Linked DNA regions of Homo sapiens: region 2 is linked to region 1. Evidence: fine-mapped expression QTL. A gene starts in region 1. The other region holds a variant in brackets. All regions are shown on one strand. Distances are between the middles of the regions.

Evidence for each region.
Region 2: its variant is fine-mapped to the expression of ZNF37A in lymphoblastoid cells (GTEx, PIP 0.93).

What each region holds. Positions count from the first base shown.
Region 1 is chr10:38,089,437-38,098,803 of GRCh38, reverse strand. It overlaps ZNF37A (zinc finger protein 37A), which reads right to left and starts at 4,467. Exons shown (of 8, transcript NM_001324250.3): 1 at 4,314-4,467; 2 at 3,580-3,873; 3 at 3,175-3,266; 4 at 3,000-3,060; 5 at 2,172-2,230. The coding sequence starts at 2,186. It also overlaps the pseudogene FXYD6P2. RefSeq lists an enhancer at 4,324-4,513.
Region 2 is chr10:38,666,844-38,676,210 of GRCh38, reverse strand. It overlaps the pseudogene SLC9B1P3. Among named protein-coding and RNA genes, the nearest start is that of LINC00999, 240 kb to the right of the region's middle. The variant G/A (reference allele first, on the strand shown) is at 5,453.

The DNA.
Region 1 (9,367 bases):
TACTGCAACCAGTCAATTCTGCCCTCGTAGTGTGAAAGTACCCACAGACTATACATAAATACATGAGTATGGCTGAGTCTCAATAAAACTTTATAGACACTGAAGTCTGAATTTCATATAATTTACAATAGCATTTAAATGAAAAACTAATAAATTTAAGCAAGGATATGCAACACTTGTACACTGAAAACTACAAAACATTAATGAAGGAAAGAAGACCTAGGGGAAAAAAATCTTACATTCATGGATTATAAGATTTAATATTAAGATGATAACACTCCCCAAAGTGTTATTACCCACTCCAATACTTACCCAATGCAATACTTATCAAAAACTCAACATACTTTTTTGCAGAAATAGAAAAGCTAACTAAAAATTCCTATGGATTGCAAAGCACCCTGCTGTGGAAAACTGTCAGTTTCACAATAAATTAAACGTAAACTTACCATATGACCCAGCAATTTCACTCGTAGGTATATACCCAGAACAACTGAGAGCATGTATTCTAACAAATATTTGTACATGAATGCTCATAGGAGCACTATTCACGATAGCGAAACACAGGATGACCCCCAATGTCCATCAACAGATGAATGGATAAACAAAAGTTGGTATATCCATATAATAGAATATTGTTCAGTCATAAAAAGGGACAAAGTACTGATATACAACTACAACATAAATGGGTCTTGAAAACATTATTCTAAGTGAGAGATCAGACACAAAAGGCTACAAATTGTATGATTCCATTTGTATGCCATATCTAAAACAGGCATATCTATAAAGACAGGAGATTATTGGTTGCTAGGGGCTGGAGCAGAGGGGAAAAAGGGAGCAACTGCTTATTAAGTTACAACACTGCTTATTAAGGGTACTATGTTTCCTTTTGGTGTGATGAAAATATTCCAGAAATAAATGGTGGTTATGGTGGTACAACATTGTGAACGTACTAAAGTCATTGAATTCTATACTTTAAAATGGCTTAATTGTGAATTTCATGTGATGTGTATTTTACCATAATTTTTTTTTTAGGTAGAATCTCTTGAAAGTTATTGCAAATATTCCAGTTCTGCCCAGTCTCTAGGGCTGTCACAAAGCCTGCCACATCCTAACAACCCATGATCACCCTAGCCTACCAGGACTGTTTCTTTAAACAACCATAAGTCCTAATGCTACACAATTCATGTGATTTTTTTTTTTTTTTTTTTTTTTTTTTTTTTGAGACAGAGTCTCACTCTGTCACCCAGGCTGGAGTGCAGTGGTGCAATCTCAATCTCGGCTCACTGCACCCTCCGCCTCCTGGGTTCAAGCGATTCTCCTGCCTCAGCCTCCTGACTAGCTGGGATTACAGGTGCACGCCAACATGCCAAGCTAATTTTTGTATTTTTAGTAGAGACGGGGTTTCACCATGTTGGTCAGGCTGGTCTCGGACTCCTGACCTCATGATCCACCCACCTCGCCCTCCCAAAGTGTTGGGATTATAGGCATGAGCCACCTAGCCCGGCCTATTTGAATTTTTTAATCACATACTTTCTCTTGATATCGCTTAAGTTTTCCCCTGGACTGCACATGAATTATTCACTTCGTTGTACTACTTTTTCATGTAACTGCAAGATTGTCATCAGAAGTTTCACAGTGTCACCTAATAAAGCCCATTGACAAACTGTTTTATGTTCCAGTTTCACAACTCTGTGAGATCACAAGATCTGCATTCACTTACATGACATTTTTGTTTTACTCTTCATCAACTCTTTATCAGAAATCAGCAAACATTTTCTGTAAAGGGTCTCACAGTAAATATTTTAGGCTTGTGGGCCATTACAGTCTCTGCTGCAACCAGTCAACTCTGCCCTCATAGTATGAAAGTACCAACAGACAACACATAAATACATGAGTATAGCTGAGTCCCAATAAAACTTTATATATAATGAAATCTGAATTTCATATAATTCTTGTTTTTTTTCCCTCAGCCACCTAAAAATATAAAAACCATCCTTCGTTTGTGGACCATAAAAAAACATGCGGCAGGCTGCATTTGACCCATGAAATGTAATGTGACCTCTCCTCTATATTTTCCCTGATGTTATTTCTACTTTCATATGAATGTATAGACATTTTTTAAACCTCAATAATTACTTTTAAGCAAAACGGTGAAAAAATAAACAACTTACCTGGGATGTGATCATCTTCCACTGGTGTTGGAAGAGCAGAGCAAACTGTGAGGGTGTAGCTGAGAAATAAGAAAAGATCATGAGTGATGTCACTTGCCTTAAAAGGTCCACTTCGCAGCCGGCAAAACATCTCTGAAAGGGAGATACTCACACGCCCATGCATGACTCTGGCATGATTATGTACTGCTTGGACTCATTAGTTTTCAAATGTAAAAACGTTTGTTTTCTACTGACTTAAAAACAATTTATGCTGTACTCTAACAGAGTATGCAAACCGATATATTAAACTAATTAAGCAAGTTAGGAAAAGCCAAAGAGTGGAACATAATACTTTCATTAAAACTGATGCTAAACAAAAATACTCAGGTTTTAATCTTTATTACAAACCAGAGAATCCCAACAAGGTTTTGAAAAAAGCGATGTGGTATTTTTCAGCCCAGTTTTTTTTGTTTGTTTGTTTGCTTTTTTGAGACAGAGTCCTGCCCTGTTTGTTGCCCAGGCTGGAGTGCGATGGCATGATCTCGACTCACCGCAACCTCCTGCCTCAGCCTCCCAAGTCGCTGGGACTACAGGTGCGCACCACCACACCCGGCTAATTTTTTGCATTTTTAGTAGAGACGGGGTTTCACCATGTTGGCCAGGCTGGTCTCGAACTCCTGACCTCTTGATCCACCCCCCTCAGCCTCCCAAAGTGCTGGGATTACTGGCGTGAACCACCGTGCCCAGCCCAGCCCAGTTTTTTTGGAAGGAAAACGAACTTGCTCTAACTTGATTTGAGGTTCTCAAAACAATCTTTGGATTTAAAAAAGCAAACTGATTTTTACTTACTCTGTTGTCAACGCAGCAAACACCCTCCTGAGTCCTCAAGCGACTCTGTCTGTTCTTGACTCTGCCACAACAAAATGTGTCAATGTCATCAGTAACTTAACACGTTAAGCTCGTTTCCTGTCCACCCCACCCCATCCCATCTTTTAAATAAAGCGTAAATAGATAACTTACAGACCTTTCTCGCGGCTGTACCTCTGATTCTGTAAGATCAAGATGGGGGCATCCGTACATCTCTAGTTGTGCTGCAGTGCGCCAGCAGCTCAGCATCTAGAACGAGCGAGTAACGAATCCAGGCATGGAGGGTGCTGTCCTCCACTTGGCTGCTAAGCTCTTCCCTCCGCATGATGCCTTCACAACTCCCCAAGAAGCGGTGCTGTCTGCTCCTTCGGCCTTGCCCTCTTCTGCCCCCACATCTGAATGGGCACAAAGCTCCCAGCCTGTGGGGGTCTGGAAAGGACACAAATCGAGCCTCTGCTCCTCCCACCCGTGCTCTAGATCTCTAGTGAGGTGTCAGCCCAACGGGTTGGGTGTCCTCCTAGGAGGGCCCCTGGGCCCTCGCCCCCCACCCTTCCCTTCTTACCCCACAACAGCTGCTTTGCTCCAAGACAGCTGGGCCTAAGCCCTTTGGTTCGAATCCTCATTCAAGACAGAAAGCTCCTACATCTTCCTGTCACTTGAGCCATGAGCTGGACCCTCTGAAAATGCCCACTGGTGCTAATGGGGACACAGGCGAGGCTGGACAGTGCCGGAGGGCCTGGGGTGCCTCCCTCCGCGTGCGCGGCCTCACAGGTCAGTGGAAACAAGAAATTCCCCAATCCACAGCCACGATGACTTCAAAATACTTCCCGAAGACATCAGGCAATGAAGCTGCGACCTGCGAGGACACAGCAAGCCGAGTGACGCTGGCCAGAGGCTGGGTGTGGAGTCCGCGCCTGCAGGGTCCCTCCCCGCCCCGCGGGCGCTTCCCCCCACCCCATTCGCCTCGGCATCGCAGTGACACCGCGGCGACGCCGACCACAGGTGGTTGTGAGGACAGCGAGATTCTGAGGGGAAAGAATGAGAGAAGCGCGCATCTATTGGGCAGAAGGCCCGTTTCTGCGCCGTCCTGCGGAGGCCTCCGGGCATCCTTCACCTCAGGGAAGAGAAAATCCAACCTCACTTGTCACAGGCGCGGGACTTGCGCATTCCCTTTGGGAGCACAAGAACCGAGGCAGGATTCGGACCCAGGCCAGGCGGCAAAGGCGTTCCCTCTCTCCCACCCCCAGGCCGCGCGGAACCCCCAGTCCACCCTCGCCCCTGCCCTCCCTTACTCACCCTCCGCGTCCTCTACCCGGACGCCAGGAGATGCCGGGAGCCCTCCCCGTCAGAGTGCCGGGGAGAAAAACAAACCTGGAGCCATATGGCAGACATGCCCAGAAGGCCCGAAGCGGCTCCCGCGACGGGGGCCGAAAAGTGCACACTACATCTCCCACAAGTCCTCGCGCCGCTCCCTTAGAAAGTGCACGCTTCATTTCCCACAAGCCCTCGCGCCGCTCCCTTAGAAAGTGCAGACTACATTTCCCACAAGCCCTCGCGCCACTCCTTTTGAAAGGGCATGAGGTTTCAGCCGCATTGGGCAGTTAGTTCCCAGATGCGGCAAGTGCAGTACTGCAGTTTTATTCGTTAGCTGAAATAAATTATGAGTATTTAAATTACACAGCTTTCTCATGAATTACATCCCCCTGATGATTTGGCCGTCCTCAACACTTCCTCATTTGGCAGAATTCACGAGTGGAATTTCTCCAGACGAGGTCGGTTCCTGTGGCCCCGCGACGCTGCCGCAGCACCACCTACACTTGCGCCAGTGTGGAGAGCTTCACTTGCTCCTTTCTGGTCCATTGGACGCTAACCGTGAGAAAACACGCTGGACATGAGCATTACCAGCCTGTAAGCTGTCGTAAAGATAACTCGGAATTGCTCTTCAAATTTTATTTGTTAAACCACGTAATACCATCTTGCATGGCAAACATGCATTTTCCATTCTTCAGGAGTATGCAGGATCTCTTGATCACGATAACTTTTTAAAGTTCACAGGCAGAGGTAATACAGGAGTGGAAAACCAAAAACCGTAGGTTCTCACTTATAAGTGGGAGCTAAGCTATGAGTACGCAGAGGCATACAGAGTGATATAATGGACTTTAGAGACTCAGAAGGGGCTGGTAGGAAGGAGGCCGGAGGTTAAAAAAACTACACATGGCCAGGCGCGGTGGCTCACGCCTGTAGTCTCAGCACTTTGGGAGGCGGAGGCGGGTGGATCACGAAGTCAGGAGTTCAAGACCAGCCTAGGTAACACGGTGAAACCCCGTCTCCACTAAAACTACAAAATTAGCTGGGCGTGGTGGCACACACCTGCAGTCCCAGCTATTTGGGAGGCTGAGGCAGGGGAATCCCTTGAACTCGAGAGGTGGAGGTTGTAGTGAGCTGAAATCGCGCCATTGCACTTCAGCTTGGGCAACAAGAGCAAAACTCCATCTCAAAAATGAAAAAAAAAAAACTATACATTAGGTACAGTGTACACTACTCAGGTGACAGGTGCACTAAAATCTCAGAATCCACCACTTTATAATTCATCCATAACCAAAAACCACTTGTACTCCAAAAGCTATTGAAGTTTAAGTTAAAATAAAAATAAAAAATAAATGTCCACTGACCAAAAAAGAAGCATTTTTCTCCATTTCTATTCCCTTCTTTACCACCACTGATGATAATCCCACTTGTTCCCATGCTGGAAAAGCATTTAGTACCATCCATGTAAAAGAATCAAATTATTCAAGGGTTGAGATGCATTTCAGAAGACAGTCATGGTAAGTACAACAATGATTATCACTTCGAGACACAATTTATTTTCCTGCTCATAATGTTTTTTTTTTTTTTTTTTTTTTTTGAGATGGAGTCTGGCTCTGTAACCCAGGCTGGAGTGCAGTGACATGATCTCGGCTCACCGCAACCTCCGCCTCCTGGGTTCAAGCGACTCTCCTGCCTCAGCGTCCCAAGTAGCTGGGACTACAGGCTTGTGCCACCACACCCGGCTAATTTTTGTAATTTTAGTAGAGATCGGGTTTCACTGTGTTGGCCAGGCTGGTCTCGAACTCCTGACCTCGTGATCCGCCCGCTTCGGCCTCCCAAAGTGCTGGGATTACAGGCATGAGCCACTGCACCCAGCCTAATGCTTTTGCATTTTAAGAAACAGTCTTGACACTTGTGAATATTCCATTATTTCTTTTTTTTTTTTTTTTTAGACTGGATCTCATTCTGTCACCTGGGCTGCAGTGCAGTGCCAAGACCTCGGGTCACTGCAACCTCCGCCTCCCAGATTCAAGTGATTCTCCTGCCTCAGCCTCCCCAGTAGCTGGGATTACAGGCACATGCCACCACGCCCAGCTAATTTTTCCTGTTTTTAGTAGAGACTAGGTTTCACCATATTGACCAGGCTGGTCTCAAACTCCTGACCTCAATTGATCCATCCGCCTCAGCCTGCCAAAGTGCTGAGATTACAGATGTGAGCCACCTCTCCTGCCCTCCATTATTTCTTTAATGCATTCAGGTTCCATTATGCCATGGATTATTTCAGTAACATTGTTTGCTCTTCTTTCAATTTGCATAATCCTATCCCTAAAGAGATTGAAAACTAGGGACATGCCACTCTTAGGCTCCTTGGGACTCGACACATCCTCCTGGGATCATCTCAGGAAGGGGACTGGCTGTGCAGGCACCATGGAGGTGGTGCTGATATTCCTATGCAGCCTGTTGGCCCTCATTGTCATGGCCAGTGCAGCTGAGTAGGAGAAGGAAATTGACCATTTTCATTATGACTAACAGACCCTGAGGATTCAGGGGTTGGTATGTGCTGTGGTCCTCTTCTCCGTTGGGATCTTCCTTATCCTAGGTTGCAGATGCAAGTGGAGTTTCAATCAGAAGCCCGGGACCCCAGGGGAGGAGGAAGCCCAGGTGGAGAACCTCATCACTGCAAATGCAGCAAAACTCCAGAAAGCAGAGAGCTGAATGAAGTGCAGCCCTCCAGTGGGAAGCCTCCGGAACCTGAAGGCAGCTGCTTGAACTTTTAGATGCAAATATTGATGCTTAAGAAAACAGCCACTTCAGCAACAAATCTTTCCAGAAGAGAAGCCAAGAACTTTTTTGTCCTGCCATGCCCTTCCCTGTCCCCTCTAACACCATTCCTCCACCTGATGATCCAACTAATCTCTTGCCTCACCACTGCAGCCTGCAGGCTCCTCCAACTCGTGTTATGTGTCTGTGTGTGTGTTTGCTGACTATAGTGTTCATGGCTACTTGTTCATGGTGATTATAGTTAGTGAACTGTGGACTCACTTTCCTGGGCAGGGGCTGAGCCATGTGGCCGTCTGCTCCTCTCTGCCCCCCATCACCTCTCACTCCTGGGAGTCTGCTTTTTTCCCTGGAGAGTCTAGCTCCTTCCCTTTAGAGCATGGGCAGGAGTCTCCAGCTGTCTTGGGACCTGGGAAGGTTTGCACCACTTTCCTCATCTTTCTTCATGGAGTCTCTTCACTTCTTTTACAAGAACCTCACTTCCTTATCCCACTCCAACCCGTCTGTTCTGAAGATCAGCAATTGGAGATACAAAGCAAAGCAAGGAGTTTGTGAGCCCGGCATTACCTTCAGGAGGCTACTATACCCTTCCATGGTTATTTTTCTCCCTGGGGAAGCCCCAGGGAGCCCCATCTGCCCTGCCTTTCACATAGCACCCAGGGATTCCAGGCCCAGGGCTGCTGCTTTTTTTCTTTTTCTTTATTCAGACAGAGTCCCACTGTGTCACCCAAGCCGGAATGCAGTGGCACGATCTCAGCTCATGGCAACATGGGTTCAAGGGATTCTCATGCCTGGGCCTCCCGAGTAGCTGGGACTATAGGCACGCACCACCATGCCCAGCTAATTTTTGTATTTTTAGTAGAGATGGGGTTTTCCCTGGCCTCAAGCAATCCACCTGCCTAGGCCTCCCAAAATTCTGGGATTACAGGTGTCAGCCACCGTGCCCAGCCTGGGCCCAGGACTAATAATCTACACTTGGGGAATGTAGCCCCTGCATATCTTATCAGCAATAACCACAGGGGCTCTGGTGCCCCACCCATCTCCAACCTTCCTGCTTCTGAGACTTCAATCTATAGCCCAGTTTTTCTGGACACAGGCTCCCATCCCTGAAGCTGAGTCTCCAGCAGGTGATGACTGAAGGATTCCCATTCTGTTGCGGCCAGCACACTGGAATGGACAGAGGGAGAGTAAGGGGCCTTTGCTTCTCTGCCCATGTCCCCTTGGTCAGCAGAGACAACTCCCGCATCCTCAGTGGTCACAGAGGTGAGTTAAGTAGGTTAGAGACCCAGTAGGCTCCATGCTGCACTGCTGCAGAGGGTACAGGAAGAGGTCAAAAGTCATAATGAGACTGGGAGCTCAAACCGGATCCCACCATTCCTGTCCTCCATGTGCCTGTGGAAATCAACCAAACCCAGCCTCTGTGGCTAGACTGCTGTTTTCTGTATCACGATCTGTCCTCTGAGCAACAGAAAAAAGGAATAAAATATTTGTTTCCTAGTGAAAAAAAAAAACTATGAATAAAAAACAAGTAAACTTCACTCAATGGAGTATTTTTAAAGTAAACAAAAATTTTGGAGTCTTTTCTTGAAAATTAAAATTATTATTTCAAGACTTTACGTAAACTAACAACTTTATCAACTGTGTTAGTTACAGGAGCCAATGAGTTTCTAACTGCAAAGGAAATGAAGAATATCGAATGCCAAAAAAAAAATCACACAATCCTTTAATCACTCAATTCTAATAGTGTAAATGCTGAAGTAAGAGAACAATTTTGTGATAATTACTTCAATGAAAATGCAAAGAACATCAGATGCTATTTTGACATCATGATGCAGAATGTGGGCAGGACGGTCCACAACTTGGAATCTTTACTTCAGCTTGGACCAAGCATGTCTGTGCCCTTATGCAAACATCAACCACAATTTGTATTTGTATCATTGCCACCAAAAGCAGTTCAGAAGCAAAGGGAAAATATCTTCTGCCTTGTGATTACTTGTATCCATGGCTCTGCTGAAAATAGGTGAGGCATTTAGATCATTGATCATCTCTGTGATCATAGTGAAGCTATTACTTTTGTTGTTGTAGTAGATTTCCTCTTGGCTCTTCAAAATTTGATTGCATCTTTGGAATCAGAAAATACTTCTAGCAGTAATACTTTCAGTAATACTTTCAAACTGTCATTTGAGCTGAAAGACTGCTGCTGTTATATAGTGTGGCAGATGTTTACAACTTCCATTGCCATTACTATATCTCAATCTGAATTC
Region 2 (9,367 bases), 580 kb before region 1:
GATTTTGACTTTCTTCTGAATCTCAATGATCTTTGTTTCTATCCAGATTCTGTCATTTAATCCTGGTTAACAACCATTGTTGGAGAGTTAGTATGATTGCTTGAAGACAGGAAGACATTCTGGCTTTTTACATTGCCAGAGTTCTTGCACTGGTTCTTTCACATCTGTGTGGGCTAAAGTTCCTTTAATGTTTTGAATCACTGTCCTTTGGATGGAGTTTTTTCCTTTTTTATATTCTTTAATGCCCTTGAGGGTTTGACTGTGGCACAAGGTAGTTTCAGTCAAATGGATTCATTTCTGGAAGATTTCAGGGGACAAAGGCTCAGCTCAGCACTCCTGAACTGCATGCTCTAACTTTGCAAGGCTGGTACCATACCCACAGTTTTGTTGTCTGGCCCTTCAGTGTTAAGCACTGAGGTGTTCCCAGTCCACTGGCAACAACACTCTGATGGGGTGTGTCAGCCAAAGTGCTTCATTGTAGTGATTGTAGCAAGGTCCCCACTCACACATATGTGCCAGCAGCAGCAGCACAGAGCAGGTATGCTTGTGTTGGCAGGGGTGCAGTGCCGGCAGGAGTGGGATGGGGTGTTCTGCATACTTACACGTGCCAGCCGGGGCAATGGTGCTGTGGGGAGCACTCATGTGCTGCTGGAGACAGAGTGGCAGCATCTTCATGAGTTTTATGTTATCATTCTAGATCTTTAAAAATAATGTTCTGGACTTCTAACAAATGTATTTGTGAACCCAGAGAAAAAAAGAGTATTATTTTGTGCACTTTTACTTAATCATACCCAAGAAAATTTTACTTTACAATTTGTTCTTTTCATTCAACAATAGTCTTGAAGTTTATCCATCTCAAGATAGATACATATGTAGTTTATTCCTTTTAATTGTATAAGATTACATTGTATGTCAACAGCAGATTTTATTTACAATGTTATAACAAAAATAGCATTTTATTTGTCTCATTTTACATAAATATAAGTTTGTCTAGAATAGTTACCTGGGTTACATGCATTTTTAGTTTGATGTATACTGCCAAAATCCTTTCAGTATGGCCACTTTAATTTGCCCCAATACCAATAGCTTATGAGCCTACCTGATGTTCTTGAAAATCCTTGCAAATCTTTGATATTATTAAATTTTATAATGTTTTCCAGTCTGATAATTGAAAAAATGGCATATTTTTGTTATTTTAATTTGCATTTCTGTGATTATTCACAAGCTTGAATATCTTTTATATATGTGTTGTCCTTCAGCTTTTCCTTATCTGTAACTAGCCTGTTCATATCCTTTGTCCATTTTTTTGTTGAGTTGATCTTCTTTATTAATTATATCTGTTATATGCATTTGTAAATTATATGTATTGCAAATATCAGTAGATATTTAATTTTGTTTGTGATGATTTTTTTTCACTCTAAGAAGTGTATTTTGTTATTTTCAACAGACAGAATTGCCAATACACAGCACTGTTCACTTGACTTTGAAAATGAAAAAGAGTAAAAGGGGAAGAAAGAGCAGAATTGCTTTTGAAGTAGTACTTTATTATAGTACTTTTGAAGTACTACTTTAATATAATTGAATGTATCAAAATCTCTTTTTATGTCTAATGCCTTTGTATGTATCATTCAAAAGGTCCTTTTTACCTCATGATCACAAATATATTATTCTACATCTTTTTTTGTTGTTGTTCAGAGTCTTGCTGTCACCCAGGCTGTAGTGCAGTGGCATGACCTCAGCTTACTGCAACCTCCACCTCCCAGGTTCAAGTCATTCTCCTGCCTCAACCTCCCAAGTAGCTGGGACTACAAGCATGCACCACTGCACCCAGCTATTGGTTTCACCATGTTGGCCAGGCTGGTCTCAGATTCCTGATCTGTCCACCTCAGCCTCCCAAAGTGCTGGGATTACAGGTGTGAGCCATCATGCCTAGCCCACTACATTTTCTTATTACTACTTTTCCTTTTGAGCTTTTAACATTTATTATGTTTAAGGATCGATCTATATTCCTTTCCACATAAATAGTTATCTCAGCACCGTTTGTGAAAGATTTCTTTCTTTCTCCCACCGATTTAAAATACAAATTGTATGATGTAACAAATCCCATAGATTTGTTTCCACACTTTGTATTCTCTTTTCTTCCAATTTATTTTGTCTATTTATATGTCACTATTATTCAGTTTTAACTATTTTACCTTTACAAAAACAGTATCTTGTTTTCTTAAGTTTACTTGATCTTTCATTCTAAGATCTTATTCTTCCAAATGAATTTTATAATCAGCTTGTCAAGCTCAGTAAAAATCCCTGCAAAGATTTTGATTGGTGTATCTCTGATTAATTCATTTGGGGGAGAGATTACATCTTTATATTATTGAGGCTTTGGCCAGGCGTGGTGGCTCACACCTATAATCCCAGCAGTTTGGGAGGCCAAGGCAGGCATATCACTTGAGGTCAGGAGTTCAAGACCAGCCTGGCCAAAATGGTGAAACACTGTATCTACTAAAAACACAAAAACTAGCCAGGCGTGGTGTTGGGTGATGGTAAAATTGGGGCTTTTTAGTTCACACTTGTGAAATGTCTCTCTAAGTATTCAGGTATTATCTTAATTACTATATTATTAGATTCACAATTTTTATAAAAGTATAGACTGTCTTCACAGTTTTGTTCTTAGACACTTTGTGTTTGTAATTGATGTTGTGGATTAAATTCTCTTTGATCACTTATTCCTGGGGAAGCCAGCTGCCATGTCCTGAGGCAGCCCTGTGGAGAAAACCCCGTTGGAAAAAACTGAAGCCTGCAATGGCTACATGAGTAAACTTGGAAGCAGATCTTCTCCACCCCACCCTACCTCATGGGAAATCTTAAGTCAAGGCATACAGCTAAGCCATGCCCAGATTCCTGACCCACAGAAGTCATAAGACAATAAATATTTGTTGTTTTAAGCTGCTATGTTTGGGGATGACTTGTTAAGCAAAATGAGAAAAATAATACAACAAGTGATTACAATGTGCAGCAGAGCTCAGGAACCACTGAACTAGACCAGTATGTGGTCTTAGAGAAGTCTAGTCTCTTCTTGAGCCCACAGGGAAATCTGTAGCATAAACTGCACCATAGAGTTGTACAGCCAGAAGCAAATCTCACATCAGTCCGTCATTGGCAGATGCTGTCTGGAGGGAAAATAGAGGGGTGCACAACCTCCCTAGTATTCCCAAGTAGGTGCTTGTCAGCAGGACAAGGGTTCTAGAAACCTGCAGGTAATAGCAGCCAACAAGAAGCACTGGGAGATGTGTTCATTGACCTGGTAAATGGATTCTGGCAGGAGCACCAAAGGCATTTCTACACAGGATATACTTCACGCTTTATAAAGTAAATGTAGAAGAGATGGGGTGAAATTCTGGATAAGATATGCCAATAGAAGGTATTCTGAGCAGGAGCCTCCCCATTCCTCATGGGTGTCATCAACCACTCCAGAAATGTTCTCATTTGCCTTTGTAACTTAGGTGGCCACACTTGTTTTTTTGGGCAGACAACTCTGTTCCTTCCTTCCTTACTTACTTATTTACTCGAGAGGTAGGAAATGTGTGGAAGGTAGATTTGTCTGACCATTCTTACAGTGGTACTCCAAATAATCAACTATTTGGTTTCCCCAGAGGTCTCTCCTGCTCCCAGCACCTGTCATTTCAGGGCTTGGACCACTTTTAGAAGCACATGTATCTTTTGAGGCAATCTTATTTACACACATTTTGGTTTATGGTTTCCTTTTTTCAATCCTAAATTGTCTGTCTCTTATCTTTCTGGCATATGCTTAGTTTCTTGTCCATTGATGATTCACCTTTTGCTTTCTTGTTAGGTTATGAATTTTTCTATTACCTTTACATCTTCATTTCAAAGGATTTAGGAATAGAGGGAAAGGCTGCAACCTGTGCTCAGGCCAACATTTTAAACCACGTCTGTATAAAATTTTAGCTAACACTAAACCATGCATGAAAAGTTTTATCACCATTAAATTGCATTCACTCAAATTTGAAATTCTTCTAAACAATGTTTGTTATAAATTTATTATAAACTACTTGTACTTATAAACACTACTTGATTAAAAAGATGCTTTTAAATTAATTTTCATTCTCTCAGTTTTGTTTTAGGTGCTGTCTCTCCTGTTGTTGTTGTCCTTTACATGATGGTGTTGCAAGAAAATGGATATGGTGTTGAGGAAGACATTCCAACCTACTAATGGCTGCTAGCAGTATGGATGACATTCTGGCTATCACTGGATTCAATACATGCTTGAGCATAGTCTTCTTCTCGGGTAAACAAGAAAATATAACAACCACCAGATCATTCATGACCTTTTTTGTTAGTTCTTTAAACAGGGTTTCTGGCTTTGCTTCTTCATTTATTAACCAAGACTGTTCAATTTAACATCTTTTTAATCTCCATAGAAAGCTCATTCCAGACCAAGGAAGATATTTCAGTGGCTTAAGATACCACTACTTAACACACATGATCTCACTTTAATAATCATGTGACAATTAATTTGATACACCATATTATTACTATTTATATGCTTATGTTGCTTTTGAATTTTATCAGTTCTCATTAGAAAAAATTAAGCAGCAGTATTATTTGTACTACTAATATTTTAATAGGCATTTTTGAAATGTGCCTTTTTGGCCATCCTAATAAACAACTGGTTGCTCTATTATAAGACAATATAAACATACAGAGCTGGGACAGCCATATGCCTTTTTGGTAGTGTTAGGACAAGATCCTGCACCAGTTCTGATTCCCAAGGTGATATCTGGTCTTGAATATCACTACAGAAATTGTGAAACTAAACATTTCCACATTTAGTAATGCTTTAATTATCTGCAATGTTTGAGTCTTCTGTATTATTGAAGCACTAAACTATTTTTAAGTTGAAAAGTAATATATATAGTTTTATAGTTTCTCTTAAAATAAGAAAATATAAATAAATAAGAAAAAGAGGAAAAGTTAAAAAAATCTGCAATAGTCACATCCAGAAGAAAAGAATCATTTCCTTCTGAACCTTTTGATATAAATCCACCCATATTCCCTTCCCTTCCCTTTTTCCCTTCTTCCCTTCCCTTCCCTTCCCCTCCCCTCCCCCTTCCCTTCCGTTACCCCTCTCTCTCTGTCAAATATTCTTATAAAAATTAGTGAATATTGACCAATATGTTCTTTTATTTTTTTTTTTGAGGCGGAGTCTTGCTCTGTCACCAAGGTTGGAGTGCAGTGGCACAATCTCGGCTCACTGCATGCTCTGCCTCCTGGGTTCATGTCATTCTCCTGCCTCAACCTCCCAAGTAGTTGGGACTACAGGCGCCCGCCACCGCACCTGGCTAATTTTTTTTTGTATTTTTAGTAGAGCCAGGGTTTCACCGTGTTAGCCAGGATGGTCTTGATCTCCTGACATCGTGATCCTCCTGCCTTG[G/A]CCTCCCAAAGTGCTGGGATTACAGGCATGAGCCATCGCACCCGGCCTAATATGTTCTTATAACCTGAATTGTTTTACACTTAACTGTATATCACAAACATGTTTCTTTTCAGTAAATGTATTTGTATATCATTTTTAATAGTTGTTTAGCTTAATGAAAGAGTATTCAATGTGCTGCATCATGATTACTTATCCTGTTCAAAATTAAAGTTAACTCCAATATTTACTATTAAAATAATACTTAGTTGTGCTGCTATAAAAATATTTTTTTAAATTAAAAAATTGGCCGGGCATGGTGGCTCACACATATAATCCCAGCACTTTGGGAGGCCAAGAAGGGTGGATCACATGAGGTCAGGAGTTCAAGACCAGCCTGGCCAACGAACATGGTGAAACCCCGTCTCCACTAAAAATACAAAACTTAGCCAGGCACGGTTGTGGGCATCTGTAATCCCAGCTACTCAGGAGGCTGAAGCAGAAGAATCACTTGAACCCAGGAGGCGGAGGCTGTAGTGAGCTATCCAGCCTGGGCAACAGAGCGAGACTCTGTCTCAAAAAAATTTTTTTAATTAAAAAAATAATACTTAGAAGAACATATAGGGAAATATTTGTACCTAATCTTCATATTTTCTTAAGCTTAAAAGTGTAATTGTTGATCTAAAAGGTATATACATTTATGAGTGTTCTGAAACATATTGCCACAATATCAAATCCTACCAGGGTACATAAACTTGTCATTTCCTCTCACCTCTCTTCAAAACTTGGTATTACTAGCCTTTTTCATCTTTGCTAATTTGATAGGTGAAGGAGGGATCTCTATAAATGAAGTACTTTGAATACTAGTGTTGTTAAATATCCATGTTTATTCGTCATTGGCATTTTGTAAATTGCTTTTCTTGAAAGTTTTTTGCCTATTTCTTTTGGTGGGTTCACCTTTTGTTCTTTTTGATTTGTCAAGATTCTGCATTAAATTGAGAATGAAAACCTTTGTTTTATATACTTTAGTTTTTTCAATTTGTGATTTGGCTTTTAATTTTCTCACTCTTTTTACCATTCAGAAGTTAAAGTTTTTTTATTGTCAATTGTGAAAATGTTTTCCTTCATGATTGGTATCTGTCTTTCTTTCAAAAAATATTGTTATCAGTCATGTTTCAAAAAAATATTTCCAGGCTGGGCCCAATGGCTCATGCCTATAATCCCAACACTTTGGGAGGCCAAAGCGGGGGGATCACTTGAGGACATGAGTTCAAGACCAGCCTGGCCAAAATAGCAAAGCTCCATCTCTACTAAAAATACAAAACGTTAGCTGGGTGTGGTGGCACAGGCCTGTAATCCCAGCTACTCAGGGGGCTGAGGCACAAGAATCGCTTGAAACCAAGAGGCAGAGGTTGCAGTGAGCCAAGATCACACCACTGCACTCCAGCCTGGGTGACAGAGGGAGACTGTCTGAAAAAAAGAAAAAAAAATTCCTCTTCCTTTTGCCGGCTACTATGCCAAACACTGAGAATAAACAGTAGGCAACAACATTAGCTTTTATTGAATACTTGCTTGGCTCTTGTTCTAAGTTCCATATATGTCACCACTCATTTACAGGTAAGGAAACTGAGAAAAATGTTAAGTAATTTTCTCAAGGACAGAGATCCAATAAGTAGGGGAGCCAAGATGCAAATCTGACAGTCTTTCACTCCACACCCACACATTTAACTCTTCTCTTCTCCACTGCCTCCCAACACAACAGAGAGACAAGATCAAATGGTGCATGTTCTCAAGGAGCTTGTATATTAAAGAAAAGTTACAAATTGGATGAATATTACATTGTGAAGGTTAATATTCAGTAAGTGTCAACTTGATTAGATTGAAGGATCCAAAGTATTGTTCCCGGTTGTGTCTGTGAGGGTGTTGCCAAAGGAGATTAACATTTATTTAGTGGACTGGGAAAGGCAGATCCACCCTCAGTGTGGGTGGGCACCATACAATCAGCTGCCAGCATGGCTAGAATAAAGCAGGCAGAAGAAGGTTAGAAGAAGCTGACTTGCTGAGCCTTCTGCCCTCATCTTTCTCCCATGCTGGATGCTTCCTGCACTCAAATATCAGACTCCAGGTTCTTTGGCTTTTGGACTCTTGGACTTACTCCAGTTGTTTTCCAGGGGCTCTCAGGCCTTCATCCAGAGACTCAAAGCTGGCCTGTAGGTTTCCCTACTTTTGAGGTGTTGGGACTCGGACTGAGCCAATACTAGATTCCTTGTTCCTCAACTTGCAGACAGCCTGTTGTAGGACTTCGATTGTGATGGTGTGATTCAATTCTCCCTAATAAACTCCCTTTCATATATATATATATATCCTATTAGTTCTATCCCTCTAGAGAACCATGACTAATACAGATTTTGATACTGAGGTAATGGAGTATTGCTATAAGATACCTGAGAATGTGGAAGTGACTTTGGAACTGTGTAATGTGCAGAGTTTGGAACAGTTGGCAGGACTCAGAAGTAGACCAGAAGATGTGGGAAAGTTTGTAACTGCCTAGAGACTTGTTGAATGGTTTTGACCAAACTGCTGATAGTGACGTGGACAGTGAAGTCCAGGCTGAGGAGGTCCGAGATGGAGATGAACAACTTGTTGGGAACTGAAGTAAAGGTCACTCTTGTTATGCTTTAGCAAAGAGACTGGTGGCATTTTGCCCCTGCCCTACAGATTTATGGAACTTTGAAATTGAGAGAGATGACTGAGGACATCTGGTAGAAGAAACGTTTGTTGTTGTTGTTGTTGTTGTTATACCTTAAGTTCTAGGGTACATGTGCACAACGTGCAGGTTTGATACATAGGTATACATGTGCCATGTTGGTTTGCTGCACCCATCAACTCATCATTTACATTAGGTATTTCTCCTAATGCTCTCCCTCCCCCAGCCCTCCACCCCTCAACAAGCCCCAGTGTGTGATGTTCTCAGCCCTGTGTCCAAGTGATCTCATTGTTCAATTCCCATCTATGAGTGAGAACATGCGGTGTTTGGTTTTCTGTCCTTGTGATAGTTTTGCTGAGAATGATGGTTTCCAGCTTCTTCTATCTCCCTGCAAAGGACATGAACTCATCCTTTTTTATGGCTGCATAGTATTCCATGGTGTATATGTGTCACATGTCTTAATCCAGTCCATCATTAATGGACATTTGGGTTGATTCCAAGTCTTTGCTATTGTTAATAGTGCCGCAATAAACATACATGTGCATGTGTCTTTATAGTAGCATGATTTATAATCCTTTGGGTATATACCCAGTAATAGGATTGCTGGGTCAAATGGTAATTCTAGTTCTAGATCCTCGAGGAATCACCACAATGTCTTTCACAATGGTTGAACTAGTTTACACTCCCACCAACAGTGTAAAAGCGTTCCTATTTCTCCATATCCTCTCCAGCACCTGTTGTTTCCTGACTTTTTAATGAATACCATTCTAACTGGGGTGAGATGGTATCTCATTGTGGTTTTGATTTGCATTTCTCTGATGACCAGTGATGGTGAGCTTTTTTTCTTGTGTCTGTTAGCTGCATAGATGTCTTCTTTGGAGAAGTGTCTATTCATATCTTTGCCCACTTTTTGATGGGGTTGTTTTTTTCTTGTAAATTTGTTTGAATTCTTTCTTTGTCAAATGGGTAGATTGCAATTTATCTCCCATTCTGTATGTTGCCTGGTTCACTCTGATGGCAGTTTCTTTTGCCATGCAGAAGCTCTTTAGTTTAATTAGATCCCATTTGTCAATTTTGGCTTTTGTTGCCATTGCTTTTGGTGTTTTAGTCATGAAGTCCTTGCTCATGCCTATGGCCTGAATGGTATTGCCTATGTTTTCTTCTAGGGTTTTTATGGTTTTAGGTCTAACATTTAAGTCTTTAATCCATCTTGAATTAATTTTTGTATAAGA